Linked DNA regions of Homo sapiens. Changing the gene in region 1 together with any one later gene gives a genetic interaction. Each region holds a gene or a part of one and is shown in the gene's direction. Other genes may lie near its edges.

The links. A genetic interaction does not mean that the proteins touch.
Region 2: changes in XPO1 (region 1) and NAMPT together harm fitness more than expected from each alone (negative genetic interaction), as found in Homo sapiens cells (one large-scale study listed by BioGRID).
Region 3: changes in XPO1 (region 1) and DMAC1 together harm fitness more than expected from each alone (negative genetic interaction), as found in Homo sapiens cells (one large-scale study listed by BioGRID).
Region 4: changes in XPO1 (region 1) and SFXN1 together harm fitness more than expected from each alone (negative genetic interaction), as found in Homo sapiens cells (one large-scale study listed by BioGRID).

The regions. Positions count from the first base shown.
Region 1 is NC_000002.12:61,486,357-61,489,856, reverse strand, and holds part of XPO1 (exportin-1), read left to right. Parts: intron 1-1,085; coding exon 1,086-1,269; intron 1,270-1,585; coding exon 1,586-1,692; intron 1,693-3,500. UniProt on the Homo sapiens protein: Mediates the nuclear export of cellular proteins (cargos) bearing a leucine-rich nuclear export signal (NES) and of RNAs.
Region 2 is NC_000007.14:106,264,484-106,267,983, reverse strand, and holds part of NAMPT (nicotinamide phosphoribosyltransferase precursor), read left to right. Parts: intron 1-2,812; coding exon of another isoform or gene 2,813-2,831; exon of another isoform or gene 2,832-3,500.
Region 3 is NC_000009.12:7,796,979-7,801,273, reverse strand, and holds the start of DMAC1 (distal membrane-arm assembly complex protein 1), read left to right. Parts: upstream 1-1,495; 5' UTR 1,496-1,539; coding exon 1,540-1,813; coding exon of another isoform or gene 1,814-1,825; intron 1,826-2,636; coding exon 2,637-2,701; coding exon of another isoform or gene 2,702-2,838; 3' UTR 2,839-4,295. UniProt on the Homo sapiens protein: Required for the assembly of the mitochondrial NADH:ubiquinone oxidoreductase complex (complex I). Involved in the assembly of the distal region of complex I.
Region 4 is NC_000005.10:175,477,087-175,481,359, forward strand, and holds the start of SFXN1 (sideroflexin-1), read left to right. Parts: upstream 1-1,473; 5' UTR 1,474-1,553; exon of another isoform or gene 1,554-1,581; intron 1,582-4,273. UniProt on the Homo sapiens protein: Amino acid transporter importing serine, an essential substrate of the mitochondrial branch of the one-carbon pathway, into mitochondria.

The DNA.
Region 1 (3,500 bases):
ATAGGCTGGGTGTGGTGGCTCATGCCTGTAATCCCAGCACTTTGGGAGGCCGAGGCAGGCGGATCACCAGGTCAGGGGATCGAGACCATCATGGCTAACGCAGTGAAACCCTGTCTCTACTAAAAATACAAAAATTAGCTGAGTGTGGCGGCGGGCGCCTGTAAGTCCCAGCTACTCAGGAGGCTGAGGCAGGAGAATGGCGTGAACCTGGGAGGCAGAGCTTGCAGTGAGCCGAGATCACGCCGCTGCACTCTAGCCTGGGCAACAGAACGAGACTCCGTCCCAAAAAAAAAAAAATAGAACTATATTACTTCATTCTTAAGTAGATGTAGACAAAAAGGCGTTTGTGTTCGTTTTTACCATTTGGGATTATAAATATGGTTTAGGGTAAGGGAAGCGTAATGGCTTTTGCTTTGGTAATTATGTGGATTTTTTTTTTTTTTGAGATGGAGTTTCACTCTTGGTGCCCGGGCTGGAGTGCAATGGCGTGATCTCGGCTCACTGCAACCTCTGCCTCCCGAGCTCAAGCAGTTCTCCTGCCTCAGCCTCCCAAGTGGCTGGGATTACAAGCAAGCACCATTGTGCCTGGCTAATTTTGTATTTTTAGTAGAGACAGGGTTTCTCCATGTTGGTCAGGCTGGTCTTGAACTCCCGACCTCAGGTGATGCACCCGACTCAGCCTCCCAAAGTGCTGGGATTATAGGTGTGAGCCACCTCGCCTGGCCATTATGATGGATAATTCTTTTTTTTTTTTTGAGACGGAGTCTTGCTCTTTCGCCCAGGCTGGAGTGCAGTGGTGCGATCTCGGCTCACTGCAAACTCCATCTCTAGCGTTCACGCCGTTCTCCTGCCTCAACCTCCCGAGTAGGTGGGACTACAGGCGGCTGCCACCACGCCTGGCTATTTTTTTTGTATTTTTAGTAGAGACGGGGTTTCACCGTGTTATCCAGGATGGTCCCGATCTCCTGAACTCATCATCCGCCCGCCTCGGCCTCTCAGAGTGCTGGGATTACAGGCGTGAGCCACTGTTCCCAGCCGTGGATAATTCTTATATGATAAATGGAATTTGCTTTTTTTCCTCCAAGAATGTGGATATACTGAAAGATCCTGAAACAGTCAAGCAGCTTGGTAGCATTTTGAAAACAAATGTGAGAGCCTGCAAAGCTGTTGGACACCCCTTTGTAATTCAGCTTGGAAGAATTTATTTAGATATGCTTAATGTATACAAGTGCCTCAGTGAAAATATTTCTGCAGCTATCCAAGCTAATGGTAGGTGATTCTGATTTCTTACACAATGCAGTATAAACAAACCACTTCTCTTCTACTGCCTTAAGTCAAACATTTGATGTTTTTTACAGATTTAAATCAGACCTCCCATTTCCCAAATGACCCTAGACATATTTAAAACAGTTAAGTGTACCTTTCCCTTTTAAAATTAGTCTTAAAGCTTATTTTCCCAATAAATTTTGTGAACTTTTGGCTTTAAACTTTTTAATGGTAAAATGGAATTGCATCTAATGTACACCTGAGTACCACTGTATAAGTTTAGTGGTAAAATTAGATTCCATTTGATTCTGTTTTGTAGGTGAAATGGTTACAAAGCAACCATTGATTAGAAGTATGCGAACTGTAAAAAGGGAAACTTTAAAGTTAATATCTGGTTGGGTGAGCCGATCCAATGATCCACAGATGGTAAGTGAGAGATGCTTTGCTTTTGATTTCTAGTGTTGATGCTGTGTTTTATGGAATATGCTATACTCTATTATGTGCATTTTGCTAATTTAAAGCATATCAACTTTGTGGTTATTTTATGGCATTTTATTTATTGTAGTCCTTACGTTAATATACTAATAGCTGTATTCCATCTTCAAAAGAAACTGCTGTTAATCAGTAGCGAAGGGTGGTGATATGTAACAAGATAGCTAAGAAAATTGGGTCATTTTATGTTTCCATAGATAGGTTAGGAGGATTTAATTAATGGAGTACCGGTGCAGTTTTTGCATTCCTCTTGATTTTTAGAACAATTGCTAGAGCTACAAAGTTGTCATTACTTTACCTCTTTAGCAAAGTGATTGCTTCCCAGATTAAAGGCCTGAAAGTCTTTTTTACACCCTTTTTCCTAAATGATTTGCAGAAAAGGAAATCATTTTCAGTAATAAAAACCAGCTGCGTATGCCTCAACTTGTAAAATTGTGAATTAGTTTTAGGTTTTAACTGTATCGTTTCATTCTTGTTATTCAATTGAGCCTTGGGAGAGTCCAAAAAATTCTAATACTACTATTACTTGGAATAGTGTTGGTTTTTTGTTTTTTGGTTTTTTTTTTTACAAGTGTGCTAGTTATTTTCATAGTTTTGAAATTTCAGTATTGTTTCTTGTTAAGGAAATACTTTTCAGTAAACTTGTTCTGAATATAATTCTTGTGGAATACTTAAGTTGGCTAACCTAAATATCGAAAGGTTCTGAACATGCGTATTATGTGAACAGAACTGTATTTAAAATTTGAAAGCAGAAAGTAAGATGTATTGAAGGAATTGTGATGTTTGTAATTTACAAGAAGCTTGAGCACGTGTCGGGAGCACAGTGGGAATAATACAAAGGGTATCATCTTTTGTAACATTAATGTTAAAGTTTGGGATATTTGTTCACATGAAACATTGTGTTTATTTTCCTTGTCTTGGCTTTTCACGGTGGCTCATGCCTGTAATCCCAGCACTTTGGGAGGCCGAGGCGGGTGGATCACTTGAAGTCAGGAGGCTGAGGCAGGAGAATCACTTGAACCCCAGAGGTGGAGGTGACAGTGAGCCAAGATTGCGCCATTGCACCCCAGTCTGGGCCACAAGTGGGAAACTTCGTCTCAAAAAAAAAAAAAGAACAAGAAGTTACTCTTTAAGTATAACTCAGTTTACTTAGAATCATGAAAATCTTACTGGGCATTGTAGCATGCACCTGTAATCCCAACCACCAGGGAGGGTAAGGCAGGCGAATCACCCCAGCTCAAGTCCAGTTTAGGCAACATGGCAAGATTCAGTTTCAAAAAAATAATAGAAATCCATAGTCTTTCTTATTTTCTGAGAGTAATTGATTGATGTTATTTCTGCTTGTGAAAATACTCACCAGTTAGCATTCATTAGATTAAAACATTAGTCTGAGTTGGGTGGATCACGAGGTCAGGAAATCAAGACCATCCTGGCTAACACGGTGAAACACCCCGTCTCTACTAAAAATATAAAAAATTAGCTGGGCGTGGTGGCAGGTGCCTGTACTCCCAGCTACTCGATAGGCTGAGGCAGGAGAATGGCGTGAACCTGGAGGCGGAGCTTGCAGTGAGCCAAGATGGCACCACTGCACTCCAGCCTGGGCGACAGAGCAAGACTCCGTCTCAAAAATAAAAAGACAGTATTGAGGGCTCGCTTGCTGCCATCTTACATATACAGTATACGTAGAATCCTGATTCTGCCACCTAAGTTGGAGACACCCACTGAATTTTGAGCCTCACTTT
Region 2 (3,500 bases), on another chromosome or scaffold:
TTGTCTGCTTTCAGTAAACTATCTCCAGTTACCCAAGAAAGAAATTACAATCTAAACTGCAGCTGCTCTGGTCCTAGAGCTAACTTTATTAAAAGTAAATCAGGTTGTTTTTTTTTTTTTTTTTTTTTTTTTTTTTTTTTTTTGAGACGGAGTCTCGCTCTGTCGCCCAGGCTGGAGTGCAGTGGCGGGATCTCGGCTCACTGCAAGCTCCGCCTCCCAGGTTCACGCCATTCTCCTGCCTCAGCCTCCCAAGTAGCTGGGACTACAGGCGCCCGCCACTACGCCCGGCTAATTTTTTGTATTTTTAGTAGAGACGGGGTTTCACCGTTTTAGTCAGGATGGTCTCGATCTCCTGACCTCGTGATCCGCCTGCCTCGGCCTCCCAAAGTGCTGGGATTACAGGCGTGAGCCACCGCGCCCGGCGTAAATCAGGTTTTTTAAATGTTTGCCAAACCTTATCACTGACTTTTATAACAAAATTATTTACTATAATCATTAGGGAATATTTAAGTTCTGCTAATACTTAAAATTGCAGAGTGCTAAAACCAGCAGTGAGTTTAGAATCAAGCTAAGCTTTATTGTTGCTACTATTTGAGGCATATTAGTTGACTGGTGTTCATATGCAAGGCAGTCTACTGGGTGCAACAAGGGTTAGAAGGATATTTTTAAAAAACTGACCCTATTCTCAGGATGAAAATAATACACTAGTAATAGTCTGCTCTGTTGGTTAACTCCTCGTAAGGAGGTACAATTAAAATGCTGTAGTGTTGCAAGGGAAGGAGAGGAAGAATCATATTCCTTCACTAGCAGGATCAAGAAAGCTTTTATAGAAATATACAAAATCTTCACTTCTTGAAGGATTGGTAAAATTTAATAGCCAACATTGGGCACTTATTCATTCTCTGAGTAAATATTTATTGCATGCTTATCTTGTATCAAGCATTGTGATGAAAGCACAAGAATGAAAGAGGAGGGAGAATGTTTAGAGAATAAGGGCTGAAACACAGATTTTGTAGGGAGCGTAGGGGAGACTGAGAAGACAGGTTCAGGTTAGTAAGGGCGCTCATATTTTGACACTGAATGTTAACTATGTGCACATCATGCTAGCTATTCTAAATCAGGCATTTTCAAATGGAAGCAGGCACTGACATTTTTGAGCAAAGACGTGATGTTATGAGATAAATATCTTAGGGGACTTTTTTATATTTTTATAGCAGGATATCTATCCTATGGATTGAAAAAAGGAAAAATCAGAAGGTAGTCTTTATAGGAAGCTATTCCAGCAGTCTTAAGGTAATGAAGTCCAGACCAAGGTGCTAAATAAATGGAAAGAAATAGGTAAACATGAGCAATGGCTTGGGAGATAAAATTGCTCAAAGTTGGTAATTTGAGTTGGGACTCAGTAGAAAATAGATTCAGCTGACGTTTATGAGCATTGTATTAGTAAGGCCTTGTTGAACACTTTTACATACAACTTTCAAGACTAGGAAACTGGGAAAATAAGAGTGTCTTTAACAAAGTTTTAAGAGTTATTTTTAGTTTGGCCTTAGATGTACATACATCTTTTAAAAATCTAACATAGTATGCACATATTAGACTCTTCGTTGATGGTTATTTCAAAGTAGTAACATCATGATACGGAGGACAAGGATAATATCTTCTTTAGGACTTGTTAAAATGAAAAGGATACTGTATGTGGGCAAGGGATAAAAATCCATTTTATTTTTATGGTCTCATATTGATTGCATTTGTAAAATTTGACTCCTTATATATTCAAATGCCTCACATGTTCTTAATAGAATGTCTTTTAAACAACAGCGTAGTATAGCAAAAAGAGGATTGGACTGAAAGTTGGGAAACCTGGGTGACCTTCCGGCTGACATAGTGGGTGGCCTTGGGCAAGTCACTTATCTCTCTGTTCTTCATTTCTTCCATCCAACCAAACAAAAGGAGGAGCTAAAGTTTTACATCTCCAACATGACAAGGTCATTGATGATAAATGAGCTACTATCTAAATAACTTTAAAATAAGAGAACTCTATAAATTTAGAGGTTTACCACTATTGTATGTATCTTAATAGATGAATCTGCACCTAAAAATATTTAATTACAGAAGCTTTTTTTCTCAAACTTTGGAAAGGTATCAAATTTAATTTGGTGCTTGAAATTAGGATTTATGGCATTGGTAGAATTCATTGATTATTTATGATCTTCATATATCACATACTGTACTAGAAGAATAGAGGTTATGATTGGACTAGACAGAGAGTGCCAGAGCAAGTATCTGTGGGATGCTGAGATGAAGATATTCAACTTTCTATCTAACAAAGTAGATCCAGAGCCTGGAAGAAAAACAGAGGCTAAGATACAGATACTGGAAACCCTCATGCAGGGACTTTTTTTTTTTTTTTTTTTTTAAGCTTTTGAGTGTTTCACACAAGGTATGTTACAGAAGACAAGTGCCTAAGTCAGAACTATGAGAAATATTGCCATCTGACAGGTTAGATTAAAGAAGGAGAGCACAGCATCTGGGAAGACTGAAAAGGGAACCATAGAAATAGGGGAAAAAAGGTGAAACATGGGAGATGTCATTGAAGTCAAGAGAAAGAAAGCATCAGGAAAATTCAGGTGTCATGGAGAAAGCAAGTAAGATGGGGACAGTGAAGTTTGCTAGACATGATACAAGTAGATCGTTAGGTGACTTACTGATACAACGTTATAAGTAGTGACCCCTTAACTGTAGGAGTTAATTCATACGTTGTAAAGTTCTCCAGTATTGGTATTCATTGATCTTAATTCTCTCCTTTTTAAAGAGAAAAGTTGCAGACCTGAATATGAAGAGGAGCTTCTCTTCAGTCATATCTTAATTTTCCATTTAGCCTACAGATGCATGAAGTAGAGAATTGACATCATAGCTACTGGCAGCCTCTGTAGCTGTTAAGAAGAGTGTTCACTAATGAGTTTTATATAAACAGGTTCTCTCTCAATTTTGGATTCGGGTAGTAGTCTTTACAATCTTGAAATGTGCATGCTGCACTACCCCAGGTATACCATTGACAGTATGGGGAAAGGTTCTAAGTCTAGTCCTTTAAAAAAAAAAACACACACACACATTGTATAAAGTGATTATTTCAGACATAAAGTCTGACTCTTCAAACAGTTATGAGTTAAACTTATACCTACTTGGGCTTTATAATAAATGAATGTGCTATCTTTTTATTATTTACTGAGGAGAACAGATTAGAGGCGGACTAGAAAATTAGGGAGAATGACCAATTGCTTGGCATAATTAAATGGTAATTTTCAAAATTAAGTTGTTTGAGATCTTTTAAAATTATTTACATTATATATTAACAAATATTTACACAGGTTGAGCATCCCAAATCCAAAATGCTCCAAAATCTGAAACTTTTTGCTCAAAGGAAATGCTCATTGGAGCATTTCAGATTTCAGAACTGGATTTCAGATTTCAGAACTGGGGATGCTTAACTGATAAGTATA
Region 3 (4,295 bases), on another chromosome or scaffold:
TCATGGGAGGAGATCAAAATATCCCTAACTGGATATTGGAAGAAATTGATTCCAATCTTTATGAACAACTAAGAAGGGTTCAAGATTTCAGATGAGGGAAGTAACAGCAGATGTGGTGGAAATAGCAAGAGAACTAGAATTAGAAGTGGAGCCTGATGATGTGACTGAATTGCCACAATCTCATGATAAAACTTGAACAGATGAGGGGTTACTTCCTATGGATGAAGAAAGTGGTTTTTTGAGACGGAATCTACTCCTGGTGAAGATGCTATGAACATTGTCAAAATGTTGGATAAAGGGCTCCAATTTTGAAAGACGTTATATAGTGGTTATTAAAATGCTATAAAACGGCATTGCATGTTGCAAAAAAATCTTTCGTAAAAGGAAGAGTCAATTCTTGCAGAAAATTTCATTATTGTCTTATTTTAAGAAATTGGCACAGTTACCCCAACCTTCAGCAACCACTACCTTGATCAGTCAGCAGCCATCACCATCAAGGCCAGACCCTCCACCAGCAAAAAGATTAGAAGTGGCCAGGTGCGGTGGCTCATGCCTGTAATCCCAGCACTTTGAGAGGCCAAGGCAGGTGGATTACCTGAGGTCAGGAGTTTGAGAATAGCCTAGCCAACATGGTGAAACCCCGTCTCTACTAAAAATACAAAAAAATTAGCCAGGCGTGGTGGCAGGCATCTGTAATCCAAGCTACTCGAGAGGCTGAGGCAGGAGAATCACTTGAACCCGGGAGGCGGAAGTTGCAGTGAGCCGAGATTGTGCCATTGCACTGGGCAGTCTGGGCAACAAGAGCAAAACTCCACCTCAAAAAAAAAAAAAAAAAAAAGATTAGGATTTACTGAAGGCTAAGGTAATCGTTACCATTTTTTGGGCAAGATGTTTTTTAAATTAAGATATATATACTGTTTTTTAGACACAATGCTACTGCACATTTAATAGACTACAGTATAAACAACTTTTATATGCACGGAGAAACCAAAAAAAAATTGCATGGCTTGCTTTATCGAGATATTTGCTGTATTGTGTTGGTCTAGAACCAAACCTGCAATCGCTATGGTATGTCTGTATCTAGCACATGATTATGCACATATAAAACCCAACTCCTTGATTCACAGGCCTCTGGATAGGAGATATGACATGCCCAAGGTCTCGCAGTTCATGTGAGGCAGGAAACTTAAGAGAGCCAGACTTCTTTAAGGAGACTGAAAGGTGATTCATTTAGTGAGTAGCGATTACAGAATTTCTAAAACAGTGGGGGCGGGGGGGGCGGCGGGGAGGAGGGCTGGAATTGTCCTCCAGCGCATACAAGGTTGTTGCTGCCAGAGAAATCCAGCAGGAAAGAGCAGCATTCTTTCACCTTTTCCGCCTCTGAAGCGGAGGAGAACTTCATTTCCCAGCAGCCCTTAAGATTCCTCCGCGCACTGCGCTAGCGTCCCGGCATTCTGCTTTCCGGCGCTCTGCCTTCCGGTGCGTCGTTTACGCCAGTTTGAACCAAAGACGCCCAAGGTTGAGGCCGAGTTCCAGAGCATGGGGTCTCGGTTGTCCCAGCCTTTTGAGTCCTATATCACTGCGCCTCCCGGTACCGCCGCCGCGCCCGCCAAACCTGCGCCCCCAGCTACACCCGGAGCGCCGACCTCCCCAGCAGAACACCGCCTGTTGAAGACCTGCTGGAGCTGTCGCGTGCTTTCTGGGTTGGGGCTGATGGGGGCGGGCGGGTACGTGTACTGGGTGGCACGGAAGCCCATGAAGATGGGATACCCCCCGAGTCCATGGACCATTACGCAGATGGTCATCGGCCTCAGTGAGAATCAAGGCACAGCACTTGGGCGGGTTGGGTATCTGCGGGGTAGAGGAAGGAAACGGAGCAGCCACGTGGGCGGGGAGGCGGGGAGGCGGGGTGCTGCCGCTGGTCAGGTGGTGGGGGCACCTCAAACAAGGTGGGAGAGGAAGTTGTTGGAACGCCTTTCTTTTTTTTTTTTTAATTTTAAGTTAGTATTTCTTGAGAACCCTTATTAGACTCAGCCCTTTTAATTCTCAGAATAGCTGTTAGAAGTAGGTATGATTATAGTATTTACTGTGGAGCAAACCGAGGCAACGAGGAGTATTGTGTTCATGGTCAGGAAATGACAGTCACTTGATCCCAGGTATATCAGATCTCAAAGCCCATACTTTTTCTCCAGGTCCTGGAGAAAGCCTGAGCGAGGGCCCTTGACCTTAATTTAAGAAATTTGCCTTGAATCCCAGATCTTTAGACGTGGATTCTAAGCTCACCTACTTGGTACACCTGGGTAATGTGGCCCACAGCCCCGTTCTGTGATCGTCAAGATGTCATCCAATCAAACGTCATGATTTTTTTAGCTTTCAAACCGATTGTCAGTGAATAGAATTTTAGGTTTCTAACTGTCTTACCTTCTTGATCCTGTATAGGTAAATTCTCCTACAGGATATTCTTTTTTTTCCTGATTTTTTTTTCTTTTTCTGTGCTTCACTTGCCTTATAAGAAAGATACAATGGTAATATATCCTCCAGAAGTGTTGTGAGGGTTAAATAAGATGGCGTATATGTGAAACACTTGGTAAATTTAAATGCAGCATAAAGGTAAGGTATTGTTGTTTTTTTTCTAGGCATTGCCACCTGGGGTATCGTTGTCATGGCAGACCCCAAAGGGAAGGCCTACCGCGTTGTTTGAAAGTACCACCAGTGAATCTGTCTTCTGTCTCTGTCCCTTTCCCCGTGACACACACAGCAGGCATGGAATTTAATGGGTGTTCTGGACAGACACTTGTACATGGACAGACATCACTACTGTGGATACTACAAGACTGAGAAGAAAATCGTATGTTGTCATTCTCTGGCTATGGAGTGTTTGTGGCCTTCACAGATTTCACAGGAACCAATAAATCCCTCAGAGAAGTAAACAGGTTCTTTGTCTTATCTGGGGAAGGAAAGTATAACTTATATTTAAATATAATTGCTTAATTAAGCATTATATATAAACATAATAGTATGTCTTATATAATTGCATGTCATATTATATATAATAAACATAAATATGTTTAGTTATATAGTTAGTATAATTTTTAAAACTTTTAAATACAGCATATGGTAAACCAACGGGAAAATTAGCTATTTTACTTCATTATTTTAAAGAGTTCTTTTTATTTCTTTCATAATTGGATCAACAACTGTTAACCTAACCCTGGGTGGGCATCATGCAATATATAGAAGTACGTGAAATTTTCTGTGTATGAATTGCTGATACTTTGCAAGGCATTTTCAAATCCATCACCTTATGAGAGCTTCACAGCTAGTCTGAGGTAGTTACTTCATTGGAGGTAAAACTTAAAACACAAGAAAGAGCCCACATGATTTGCCTAGGGTCATTCAGTAAGTCCGTGATGGAGCTAGAACTTGTTCTTGTCAGTTTTTTGTTCTAGTCTTCCCTTTCATGGAGGCAAGAATAACCATTATGAAACAGTTAGATAATCATAAAAATCAGCATACAATAAAAGACTTAAATGTCACAAGAAAAATTCAAAACCTTTAGCTAAAAAAAAAAAAGATCTTTTGATTCTTTTTCCACAAGCACTAGATATGTTTCTGTGATGATTTTGAGATAAGTACTCAAAATTACATAGTTCATTTCTAAGAGAAGGCCATGTTTTCTACCTATTGGGTTTTTCTACCCTGAGATACTATGGCTTCTTTGTAAAGGTATATAAAGTGTTTTTCAAAGCGGAAAGATACTGTTAAATTCAGCTGCTAATCATAGTGTATTTGTTTGGAATGACATGTTGAGCAGGTAGTACCTTTACGGCTGTTGCTTTTTGCAGCATTATGTGGAAGTGCCTAAGTCTATTTAGCCTCACAGATGACTTTAGAATCTTGTATTTTCTACATCAGAGTTCATAGCGGGGATGGTGCTACATATATCTATGCAACTGAAAAAGAAAACATTTCAAACCTAAAGTACGCAACAAGATATTATTTATATGAAATCCATAGCTCAGTTATGCTATGTTCATGAATAGAGAAGTTTTAAGTTGGAAGGGACCATGGATGACCCAAAGCAGATACATATGGTCATTCATATACCTAAAATACCTACAAAGACAAGTTGTTCCCTGGTTTAAAAGGCAGTCTGTTCTATTGATGGACTGCTTTAGTCCCTGAACATTTTCTTTGGTTAAACCAAAAACACATAAACCTAACTTGGTCTTGGCTTGATCTACTGGGTAAATAATAACTCTTAAATATATATACAGTTGACCCTTGGACAACAC
Region 4 (4,273 bases), on another chromosome or scaffold:
GCAGTGGCACAATCTCAGCCGACTGCAACCTCCACATCCCAGGCTCCAGCAATCCTGCTACCTCAGCCTCCTGAGTAGCTGGGACCATACGCCACCATGCCCAGGTAATTTTTTGTATTTCTGGTAGAGATGGGGTTTTACCATGTTGTCCAGGCTTAAACTTCTTAGCTCAGGTGATCCACCCACTCCGGCCTCCCAAAGTGCTAAGATTATAGGCATGAGCCACAGTGCCCAGCCAAGAAGGGGCGATCTTTTATATATCTTTTTGAGCCCAGCACTTGGCACAGGGTATGGTACAGAGAAAAAGCTAGTTAAACATTCATAGGAATTTGGAGGATGAGGAATAGCACTCAAAATATCTGTGACATATTGCTTAAGTTTTAGAAGTTTTGTTTTTCACGTTTGGATCATTAATCCACCTGGAGTTGAGTTTCATGTATTATACAAGTAGGGATTTGGCTATCCCAGTACTGTTTAATGAATATCTAACCTTTGTCCCCTGACCTGTGATGCCAACTCACAGCAGGTTTCTACATGTGCAGGTTTCTACATGGATGGCAACTCTATTTGGCTCCGCGAGGCTCTTTGTTGACCCCGGAGCAAACACACCACCTTTGTTATTTACCATTGTTTTATAACAAGTTTTGTATCTGCAGGACAAGTCACTCTGCCTTGCTCTTTTCTTAAAAGCTTGTTTGGCTGTTTCTGGCTCTTTATTTTTTTCATGTACATTTTGCAGTCCGCTTGTGCAGTTATAACACACACTCCACCAAGCACACTAGTGTTGTCGAATTTTTTTTTATTGTCATAGGTCATTTGGGAGAGAATTTACATCTTTAAAAATGGAATCTTCCTATGCAATTTATGATGTAATTCACCATTTATTAGATTTCATTTGCCCTTTAAATATGCCCAGGTTACCCACCTGGTCCAAAATACCATGATTCCTCTCCTGGATAACCACAGCATCTGGCTAAACAGCCTCTCTGCCTCCACATCCCCTCCCACGCAGTCTGTTCTCCATAAAGAAGACAGAGTGCGCCGTTGTTGTTGTTGTTGTTTAAGACATAAATCAGGTCGTGGCACTAAAGTCCTAAAATCGCCTTGTAGCGCCAGTCTTGCCAAGCTCCACACTTTAATTGGGTAAATGACTGCGTGAACGGATGCTGGCTACGCCAAGGCCCTGGGAATAAAGAAATGATAAAGAAGCAGTCCCTTAAGGGAAACCCAAATGGAACATAGTGGCCCCAGCCCGCGCAGAGCCCCACACCACCGTGAGGATGGGCTTGGAGTTCCTCTTGGACCCGGGGCGCGGTCGCTAAGCCAGAAGCGGAGTCGCGGGCGCGGGGCGGGGCCTGGACCCGGGCCTGGACCCGGAGGGCGGGTCCCTGGGCCTCGTAGCTCCCGGGCCCGGACGCGCGCTCACAGGCGCGCGCGAGGACGCGCTCCGGGGACGCGCGAGGACGCCGTGGCGGGAGAAGCGTTTCCGGTGGCGGCGGAGGCTGCACTGAGCGGGACCTGCGAGCAGCGCGGGCGGCAGCCCGGGGGAAGCGGTGAGTCGCGGGCGGCAGGCCCAGCCAGGTGGGTGGGGAAACGCGCAGGGGGCCCGGCGGAGGCGCGCAGGCTTGGGCAGGCTCGGGCCGTGCACCCGCGGGCCGGCTGCGGGGAGACCCCGGGCTCGGAGGTCGGAAGCCCCTTTGCGGGCCGGGGATGCCTCGGGCCGGGGGGGGGGTCCCTGCACCTGGGGATCCCTGGCATCCTGCGGCCGGACAACACCACGCTTCCAGCATCCCGAGGCCCAGCATCCCGTGGGCCTCGTCCCCGGTGGGAAGGGCCCTCCGCCGCGTCCCCGCGCGCCTGGCCGCGCTGTCTTCGGCGCCTGCGTGGCGAACTCGCTCCGGGGACACCAAGATGGCTGCCTCGGGGGCAGCGGCAGCCAGGTGGCCCAGTGCCTGGCCCAGCGCTCCGCGCTCTCGGCTTTGCCTCCTGGTGCTGGGGGTCGGAGGGGAGACCACCTGGTTCCTGCCCTAGAACTCGCAATCCAGTAGGGAGGTGATGTGCAAGGAAGTAGATTCTTGGAGTAGTAGTTGGTCCTACAGGGACCTTGCATTTTCACGCTTTTCTCCTGAACTTTCACGTCTGTCACAGGTCTCTAACCTGCCCAGAATGACAATAAACAGTCTACTAAGTGCGTGCCAGGTGACTTAGGTCCATATACTTTTACACTCTTCCGGCCCTGCGAGGTACTGGGTGTTGGCTCTATAATCCACATGAGAAAACTGGGGCTCTGAGAGGTTGAGTGCCCAAGGTCACACAGCTGGCCATCCATAGTCCAAGGCCATCTGAGTCTCAGTCGTAAATACTGCGTTCTCAAAGACGCTTTTCCTTGGCTATGCTGTCTAAAATTGCACCCCCCATCCCCCCACACACCCTTTGTAACACAAACTCTGGGTTTTTTCTCTTTAGTGTCTTTTGTCACTAGTTGAAATTAAAGGTGTTTACATGTTTTCTTCTCCTCATGTGAACAGGGCCTATTTTGTGTTGCTCAGCCTATCTATCCCCTGCGCATAACAATTGCCTGCACCAAGAAGGCCCTCAATGAGTATTTGTTGACTGCCTGAACGAAAAAGCCTAGCTCTGCTTCACTCCAGAGCCTGGGCACTTAGCTGCTCCGTAGGCAACTCTTTTCTGCGCCCCCATAGCTTTTTCCCTGCACATTTCTCACAGTCCTAGTCCCTCTTCTGCGTTGACTTCTAGATTTTGACTTGGGTGCCTTTGGATTCTCCCTTCTTTGTCCATCCCCCTTTTACTGATCTGCTTCAGTGTTCTAGGCATTGTTATAGGTGCCCAGGGAGGATGCAGGTAAATGAGGAGGCTTTGCAGCTCCTACAGCTTCAGACTTGATATAAAAGATGAGAGGGAACTGTTTGGGAGGATGAATGGGGTGGCTACCAAGAAGTTCTGGGACCTCAAGCAGATCCTTTCTCTCCTCAGCACTGAGCAGGTGTCTCACTTTCAAAAATACAGTGTTTGGGCCAGGCGCGGTGGCTCACGCCTGTAATCCCAGCACTTTGGGTGGCCGAGGCGGGCGGATCACGAGGTCAGGAGATCAAGACCATCCTGGCTAAGCCGGTGAAACCCCGTCTCTACTAAAAATACAAAAAATTAGCTGGGCGTGGTTGCGGGCGCCTGTAGTCCCAGCTACTCGGGAGGCTGAGGCAGGAGAATGGCCTGAACCCGGGAGGCGGAGCTTGCAGTGAGCCGAGATCGCGCCACTGCACTCCAGCCTGGGCGACAGAGCAAGACTCCGTCTTAAAAAAAAAAAAATACAGTGTTTGGCAGGGAGGAGCTATCAGCTCCCATCTCAGCTTAGTACGTATTCAGAGGTTAGATTGAGGCTTTCAGGCCACATGGATGTTCAGAAAAGGGATGATATCTGTGGTTACAGTTGTCAGAGAGGACCCTATATGGCAAAGGGTGTCATAATTCAGGATCAGTGAAGTGTTTAGCTGTTCTTAATTTTCTGTAAAAGTTCTATGAAACCCCATGGGGATGGATACAGAAAGGCACCAACTGGCAGGGAATATCCCTTCCTGCTCCTCACTTCCTGCAGAGAAAGCTGAGAGGACAGCCTGGACAGCAAAGGTGGTAAGAGCAGACCCGTCATCAAACGTTGTTGTTCTGGAAGACTTACGTTGAAGTCAGGCATCTGTATCCTGTTGTGTAGCAGTGGTGAGCTGCATTCAGTTAGAGTAGAACCATGAGTGTGACCAATTTTTCCTTTGTGGTTAAAGGTAAGAAATCAAAAGTAGTGAATCCATTTTTTAAAAAGGGGGGAACAAAGGGCTGTTGTCCAGAAAGTGAAAAGTCATTAAATTAGACCATGTGTCAAACCTGCACTTAATTACACAAAGTTCAAAGTTACTAAGTTTTTCTTTAGCAGCTGTTAATTTGTAAAATAGTTTTATAGACTTTGGTATATGGCATCTCCGAGTTGATTCTTATACATGGATGGTAAAACTTCATCCAAATATGTCTAAAATTCTAGTTTAGTGTTGTTCATTTTTTGCAGGCTGATATCACCATCTCAAATAGAAATCAGAAGATTTTTTTTTAACTGTAATAACATCACCCATCCTAAGATACTGCTTAAGAAATCCATGCCCATAGTTGATCTTGAGGACTGGAATATGAGCAATGGTTGTAATGTTACATCCGTGTTTTTGTTTTTTGTTGTTGTTTGTTTGGTTTTTGAGATGGAGTCTCGCTCTGT